3 separate regions of the Homo sapiens genome follow, and regions 2 and 3 are each linked to region 1. Evidence: fine-mapped expression QTL. A gene starts in region 1. Each other region holds a variant in brackets. All regions are shown on one strand. Distances are from middle to middle.

The links. PIP is the estimated chance that this variant, and not a neighbour inherited with it, causes the effect.
Region 2: its variant is the best candidate, but not a certain one, in a credible set for the expression of TSPAN11 in putamen (Braineac2, PIP 0.80).
Region 3: its variant is the best candidate, but not a certain one, in a credible set for the expression of TSPAN11 in prefrontal cortex (ROSMAP, PIP 0.84).

Annotation. Positions count from the first base shown.
Region 1 is chr12:30,925,605-30,928,268 of GRCh38, reverse strand. It overlaps TSPAN11 (tetraspanin 11), which reads right to left and starts at 1,521. Exons shown (of 8, transcript NM_001370302.1): 1 at 1,473-1,521. It overlaps LOC124902911 (a long non-coding RNA gene), which reads left to right and starts at 1,580. Exons shown (of 2, transcript XR_007063264.1): 1 at 1,580-2,664.
Region 2 is chr12:30,990,450-30,993,113 of GRCh38, reverse strand. It overlaps TSPAN11 (tetraspanin 11), which reads right to left. Exons shown (of 8, transcript NM_001370302.1): 8 at 1-1,258. The coding sequence ends at 1,199. The region is part of intron 2 of TSPAN11-AS1 (TSPAN11 antisense RNA 1); the gene reads left to right. Among named protein-coding and RNA genes, the nearest start is that of TSPAN11-AS1, 14 kb to the left of the region's middle. The variant T/C (reference allele first, on the strand shown) is at 1,020.
Region 3 is chr12:30,888,049-30,890,712 of GRCh38, reverse strand. No RefSeq gene overlaps it. Among named protein-coding and RNA genes, the nearest start is that of TSPAN11, 37 kb to the left of the region's middle. The variant G/AG (reference allele first, on the strand shown) is at 1,368.

The DNA.
Region 1 (2,664 bases):
AATGTCCTGGGCTCATCTGAAGAAAGGCTCTCTGGAAAGTCAAGGTGCTCTAGGCAGACTTAAAGACATCAACGCCAGTTTTCCTCTTGTTCTGCAGCACTCACACAAGAACTATGGGGAATCACACAGGCCTGTACATATTTTACACACGAGTCCAAAGGTGGGTATAAAATTCCTGCTATGCTGAATATAGTGGGAAACAGCACACAAATGCCTCCCTCTGCTACCCACAAACCAAACAGCTCTGGGCCACCTAAGCCCTCGCCAGACCACCAACTTGGCCCCTGTAGGCCAGTAGTGCCCCTTACCCTAGGAGTCTTAACTATCATCAAAGCATTTCCAGGCATTAATTGGAGCCTCCAGTCCCTTGGGAGACAGATGGGGCCAGTGGTTATTAGTCCCATTTTGCACAAAAAGCAACTGAGCCCCAGATGACCTATCTGTCCAGGGAACAATGCTACTGACACAGTGACAACCATTAAGTTCTGATTCAAACCTGTCTCCAGCCTCTAACTGCTGCTTTCCACTGCAATCCAGCTGCCCACAAATTGAACACAGACTATCCACTTTGGCCTAATACCACCCTCATTCTCTTCTTCACGCTCCCCCACACACACCCTATGCCCCAGAGTGCACTTATGAGTTTTTCCAGAAGCTGCCTCTTCTCCTCACCCCCCACCCCCACGCTCACCTCACAATACTTGCCACGAACTGGAGACCTCTGGAACACTTATTCCTCCTGCACACAGCAGCTTAGACTCAAGTTAAGATGCTGTCCCGCCAAGCCCAACTGGGCTGCCTCCCTTTCATACTTTCCACCAATTCACACATGTGCACACTGCACATATGGCTGGTGAAAAGGATACACCCCAGAACCTTCCATGCCTTCTTTCCACACGGAGCCGGCCAACTGCACATGCAGGGATGGGCACGAAAACACAGGTGACAGGGCCTACACAGCCATGTTGTCACAAATACACAGACGTGCCCAGAACATGAGGACATCCCTGCACAGGCAGACAGGCCCTCTGAAAGCAATGTGCACCAGATACAGCATTTTGGTGTAGCCATGAGAGGCAGCTACTCGAATTCAGGGTGGACAAAGAATGACATTTTCAAGAGGAACAGACATGCCCCGGGCACGCTGGACGGCACGAGGCCCTCAGAGGCCCAGAGCTCTCTCCCAAGGCACAAGTGCAGAAAGGCAGACTCATGCGCATAGTTATGGACACCGTGTTGCGTGTCCCATGCAGACACCAATACCTGCTCACATGCCCCGCGAGTGTCCCAGGCATTCCTGCCTCCTCCACTCCTCATCCCCAGCCGGCTTCCCTCTGCCCGCCCGGGGGAAGCTCGGGACAGTCTAGCTCGGGACTGCCGGCGGGGCGGGCAGCGGAGGTGGAGGCGCCTCTCCTGGACCCCCAGCCCCCTCCCGCGGCGCCCCCACTCCTCGGGCGCGCTTCTGCACTTACCCTGCCAGGGGCTCCGGAAGCGGCGAAGGGAGCTGCGCCTAGAGAGACTGAGAGCGGCGGCTCCCGGGGCCGCCCAGCCGCCCACCGCCCGCAGCCAGCGCTCCTCCCTCCCAGCCCGGGAAGGTCAGCGTGTGGGCAGCCCGGCCCGCGCCCCTGCGCCCACTGAGGCTTCCTGCCGGCCCTCTAGTCCCCGCCTGCCCAGCGCTCGGCCGCGACGCCCCGGCGCCGGCTCTCCCAGCCCAGCCGGCAGGACGCGCCCGGGAGCCCCGCACGCGAGCTGCCGGCTCTTTGTTTGGGGGTTTGCCTCTCTGCGATTCAGAGCACGCGGAGGGAATTAAGTCAGAGTCCGAGGCAGCTGTGCGGTTGCCGGGGGGATCCCTAAGGGGGGCGGGGCAAAAGGACGGACTAGTAGGGCGGTGGAGCGGCTTTCAAACTCCCCGCGCTCCGCAGCTCCCCGCTTAGGTCTCCCTGCCCTTTACGTTTGTCGGCCCCTGGGAGAGGTTGGCCTTTGGGGGTTTCCAGGGACCCTAGGGACAAGCCTGTCTGATAAGAGAGAGGTTCTCCATCCCCCTTCCTCACCAGCCCCCATCACTGCCGTGTCCCTCTTAGAGTCCTGTGGAGCATCAGCTTTACATTTCCTGGGCCCCGGGGAGAATCAAGGTCTCTCTAATCTGAAGCAAAAAGGAATAACAGAGAGTAGAGCCCATCTGTTCCTGCTGAGTCCCTGTGAAGGTGCAAAGCTGGCCCTAACGGGACTGGCCCTAACAGTGGGGCATGGATTATCTATTTCCCAAAGTAACAAGGGCCTTGTGCTTATCCAACCGTGTTCTTTTGAAACTTAGCTGCAGTGAGGAAGATTACCCATTTACCAGGTTGCTAGATCAGGGAAGCCACTGGAGGCAGGGGACGCTGACAAAGCCACTGTACCGGGAGCACCAACGTTCTAAATACCCCAGCTGGCTGCTGAGAAGGGCTTCGCGGGGGGCCACACAGGAAGGAGATGATTCCAATAGTCCCGTGAGATGAGGACCTTAACTGGGGGATGAATGCGGAAGCTGCAGCAAAGGAGAGTCTACAGACTGTGTGGTGTAGGAGGAGCACACTGGGGCTGTAACATTGTGGAAGTCTGGAGGAGAACCTGGAGTGATGTGACTGAGTTTAGTGTGGAGCAAGTTGGATTGGAGAAGCAGGC
Region 2 (2,664 bases), 65 kb before region 1:
TCCCTATGGGTGTTGTACAAAAAGCTGCCAGCATGGATACTCTGTATTTTCTAGGATTTTCTTTCTGTTCTCCCTTATTACTGGGGAAAGTTCTTCCTGAAAATTCCGCAAATTCCCTGCTGAACTTAGTGATGCAAGAGAGAACCCAAGGAAAAAGCTCTGTCCACTCTAGGACAGGTGGGAAGGGAAGCAGAGCTGGACCCCCTGGAAGCAGTGTGGTGGTGGCTACGGGGTCAAGGAGAGGGCCCCAGGAAAAGTGAGGTTCAGGCAGATGCCCCTCTATTCAGAGCTGCCCCTTCTCAGCAGCTCCGACTTTGCAGGGTTGCGAGTTGGTCCACTCCAGGAGATGTTTGACACCCATCAACATTAGGTGCTGAAGATGGTCTGAAACCTGGTGTTCCTGAGAATCAGGCCCCGGAACAGGAGATTCCCGAGGGGCGTATCACTAGAGGCCAGGGCTTGGGGCCATGGTCTCCCAGGGAGGTTTCTCCCAGGAAGGCAGCTAGGCAGGTGCAGGGCTCTGCTCCTAGTGCAGCATGTGCTGGTATGGCCACCTTACCCCCTGCTTCCTGCCAGGGCGGCTCTACCCAGCCTGTGGCTGCCCTACCCAGGCCTCCCCACTCCTAGGCCCTTCAGGAAGGAATGAGGCCAGCAGGACATGGCTTTCCAGGTGAGGCAGTGTGGAGAGTGGGCAGGTCAAAGGGCAAGGTCTTCTGGGGGAAATGCCAGCCCTCCCTGCCCCACCCCATGCTTTTTCCAGAAACAGCAAGGTCAGGGCTTCTGGGCATGGGTGGGGGAATCCCGTGCTGAATGCAGGAGTGCCGGGGTTCCTGGGTTTTCTGCCGATTGTTCCAGGTTCAGGAGCTGGGAGGGAGCAGAGAACCCAACCGCCACCCTCCCGTAGTCCACGGGTGCCCCCGTTCCTGGTGAGGGGCTCTGGTTGTCTCCTGAAAGGATCATTTCCCTGCCCAGGATCTGGCCATGGGGGCTCAGAAATGGAGGAGAGGGGGCCGAGGGTC[T/C]CTGCCTGGGTGGGCACAGAAGCTATGGTCTCAGGCACTCGGTGGATTCGCAGGAGCTAGGCACAAAGGAGGGGGCATCTATGGCCCTAGTGGAGCTGGTGCTAACTCTGCAGGCCTTGCAGATGGCATGTGGCCACATGTTGTCTTGAGGGGCAGTTGGAAGAGGAGGTGGTTGGCCATTAGTAAAAATGCCGCTGGAGCCTCTGGTGCAAGCAGCAGGTGAGAACCATCCCGCAGATCTGCCAGGTGGAGAGAGCAGAGGAGCAAAGAGAAATCAGAACTCCTGGAAGCTGCCGGCCCTCAGGGCCCTGGAGCAGTGCTGCTCACTCGAATACCCTGGGGCCTGGGCAAAGGGCAGATTCCTGCTCAAAACTGCTCAAAATGTCAGGGTGGGACCTGAGGTTCTGCATTTCTGACAAGCTCCCAGGTGATGGTGGTGTGCCTGGGGGAACCACATTCTGCCATCTACTATCCAAGAGCAGGGCTTTGCACACTTTAATGGGCATGAATCATCTGGGGACCTCCTTATTACAATTCTTCAGGCCTAGTGGCGGCCTGAGAGTCTGCATTCCTAGCAAGCTCCCAGTTGATGCTGCTGGTCTGTGGTCCTAGATCTTCTCCAGAGATGGCCTGATTTAATTAGGCCCTAAGAGTAATGTTTCCACTCCCTCATCAGAGCTGTCTGAAGTGGACTGTCTCTCTAGGAAAGAGTCTGCCTGTGTTTTGCTGTCCTTAGACTCTAGAGCAAAACTCAGGTCCATCTTCGATGCTCTGGCTGGTGTACAGGAGCCATGGGGGAAACTGAGACTCTGGGAAGAGCCTCCTGAGCTGTCACCCTGTCAGTCAGCATAGAATAAGAGCTGGTGAGCTCACCCTGTCAATCAGTGTAGAATGCAGCACCAAGCTCAGGCCCCAGGCGTCCTGTCTGCCAGCCCTTCTGTCGGTATCCACAGCTGAACAAGGGGCTGGAGCATCTGGTCCAAAGCAGACACAGGCCTGGGAGGATCACCCTGCACACCGCCTTCTCACTTCTCCCACTTCCAGAATGCAGAGGAGCTTTATTCTCCCTCCTTGCTCTTCATGGGCCCTCCTCTGCCTTCTTCCTCCTCTTCCTCTCCTCCCTCCCACCCAAGGATGCATTGAGGGTAATGTGATTATGATCCTGATAATGATGATGACATGTTGTTGGATCTTGGCTCTCTGCACACAGGAGGGGGCACTGGGCTAAAGCAGCCCCATGACTGTCCCGTGATACCTGGGGTGAAGGTGGCTCTCCTAAGTATTGAAACAGTGTCCTGACTTTCCTAGCAGCTGCTGCTGCCCTGACCTTGCCGGTGCAAACCTGGATGCAGGTGGAGCTCTATCCAGTGGGAGGAGAGCAGGCTGGTGGAGATGCGTGTGTCCTGTACTGTCTCTGACAGCTAGCTGGGGGAGGTAGTGTGGAAGGGGCCCATCCTCTTCCCCTCCTTCCTCCTCTCCATCCCTCCCAACCTGGAGGACAGCGTGGAGTGTGAACACTGCTTTCAGCCTGCAGACTTGGTGTTAATCCACCTGGGGCCTCAGGCTGAAAGGCGGCTTAGGAGGTTATCTCATCTCCCGCTAGCTTTACGCAGGCGGCCGTCATGCCGTTCCACCCATGCAGGTT
Region 3 (2,664 bases), 38 kb after region 1:
CTAGGCATCCAACTTACAAGGGTTGTGAAGGACCTTTTCAAGGAGAACTACAAACCACTTCTCAACGAAATAAAAGAGGACACAAACAAATGGAAGAACATTCCATGCTCACAGGTAGGAAGAATCAATATCGTGAAAATGGCCATACTGCCCAAGGTAATTTATAGATCCAATGCTATCCCCATCAATCTACCACTGACTTTCTTCACAGAATTGGAAAAAACTACTTTAAAGTTCATATGGAACCAAAAAAAGAACCTGTATTGCAAAGACAATCCTAAGCAAAAAGAACAAAGCTGGAGGCATCACGCTACCCAACTTCAAACTATACTACAAGGCTACAGTAACCAAAACAGCATGGTACTGGTACAACAGATATATAGACCAATGAAACAGAACAGAGACCTCAGAAATAACACCACACATCTACAACCATCTGATCTTTGACAAACCTGACAAAAACAAGAAATGGGGAAACTATTCCCTATTTAATAAATGTTGCTGGGGAAACCGGCTAGCCATATGTAGAAAGCTGAAATTGAAAGCCTTCCTTACACCTTATACAAAAATTAATTCAAGATGGACTGAAGACTTAAATCTTAGACCTAAAACCATAACAACCCTAGAAGAAAGCCTAGGCAATACCATTCAGGACATAGGCATGGGCAAGGACTTCATGACTAAAACACCAAAAGCAATGGCAACAAAAGCCAAAATAGACAAATGGGATCTAATTAAACTAAAGAGCTTCTGCACGGCAAAAGAAAGTACCATTGGAGTGAACAGGCAACCTACAGAATGGGAGAAAAGTTTTGCAATCTACCCATCTGACAAAGGGCTAATATCCAGAATCTACAAAGAACTCAAATTTACAAGAAAAAAACAAACAACCCTATCAAGAAGTGGGCAAGGAATATGAACAGACACTTCTCAAAAGAAGACATTTATGCAGCCAACAGACACATCAAAAAATGCTCATCATCTCTGGTCATCAGAGAAATGCAAATCAAAACCACAATGAGATACCATTTCACACCAGTTAGAATGGCAGTCATTAAAAAGTCAGGAAGGCCGGGCGTGGTGGCTTATGCCTGTAATCCCAGCACTTTGGGAGGCTGACATGGGCAGATCACGAGGTCAGGAGATCGAGACCATCCTGGCTAACATGGTGAAACCCCGTCTCTACTAAAAAAACAAAAAAATTGGCTAGGCGTGGTGGCAGGCACCTGTAATCCCAGCTACTTGGGAGGCTGAGGCAGGAGAATGGTGTGAACCTGGGAGGTGGAGCTTGCAGTGGGCCAAGATTGCACCACTGCACTTCAGCCTGGGTGACGGAGTGAGACTCCAACTCAAAAAAAAAAAAAAAA[G/AG]TCAGGAAACAACAGATGCTGGAGAGGATGTGGAGAAATAGGAATGCTTTTACACTGTTGGGAGTATAAATTAGTTCAACCATTGTGGGAGACAGTGTGGCAATTCCTCAAGGATCTAGAACTAGAAATACCATTTGACCCAGCGATTCCGCTACTGGGTATATACCCAAAGAATTATAAATCATGCTACTATAAAGACACATGCATATGTTTATTGTGGCACTATTCACAATAGCAAAGACTTGGAATCAACCCAAATGTCCATCAATGATAGGCTGGATTAAGAAAATGTGGCACATATACACCATGGAATACTATGCCGCCATAAAAAATGATGAGTTCATGTCCTTTGCAGAGACACGGATGAAGCTGGAAACCATTATTCTCAGCAAACTGTCCCAAGGACAGAAAGCCAAACACTGCATGTTTTCACTCATAGGTGGGAACTGAACAATGGGAACACTTGGACACAGGGCAGGGAACATCACACACTGGGGTCTGTTGTGGGGTAGGGGGCTGGGGGAGGGATAACATTAGGAGAAATACCTAATGTAAATGACGAGTTGATGGGTGCAGCAAACCAACATGGCACATGTATACCTGTGTAACAAACCTGCATGTTGTGCACATGTACCCTAGAACTTAAAGTATAATAATAAAAAAAGAAATTACAGATACAGTAAGTATTTAAGGCAAGGATGTTTATTATAGTAATATTTATAATAGTAAAAATAAGTCTTTAAAATTTGCTATTTCAGAATATCTGATAACATGAGAACATATTTGCAGTATTAAAAACAAATAATTATGAAATCTTTTATATAGAAAATTACAGCAAATATAACAAACATCCATATACCCTCCAGCCAAATTTAACAAATGTTGACAGTTTGCCATATTTACTTAAGAATGTTTTAAGAAATAAAAGGTTGCATATATCATTGAGTCCTCTTTTATAGTCTTCCCTTCCCTACTGCTCCATAGATAACTATGGAGTTATCTGAAATTGGTACATACTCTTCTTATTCAGAAGTTATACCTTTACTACATATATTTATCTATATAAAAATATATAGCATTTTAAAATAATTTACAAAATTTTTAATCTCTATCTATGTGTTTTCATTCAACACAATTTCCAAGATTTACTTAGTTTGATATGTGGATAAAATTGTTTTTTATTGCTATGTGTAGTGTTTGAACTACACAAATATATTTAATACACATTTGAAATTGGATTATACCAGTTCAATGATTATCTCTAAATGAACATACTCATCTAAGTACAACCCGGCTG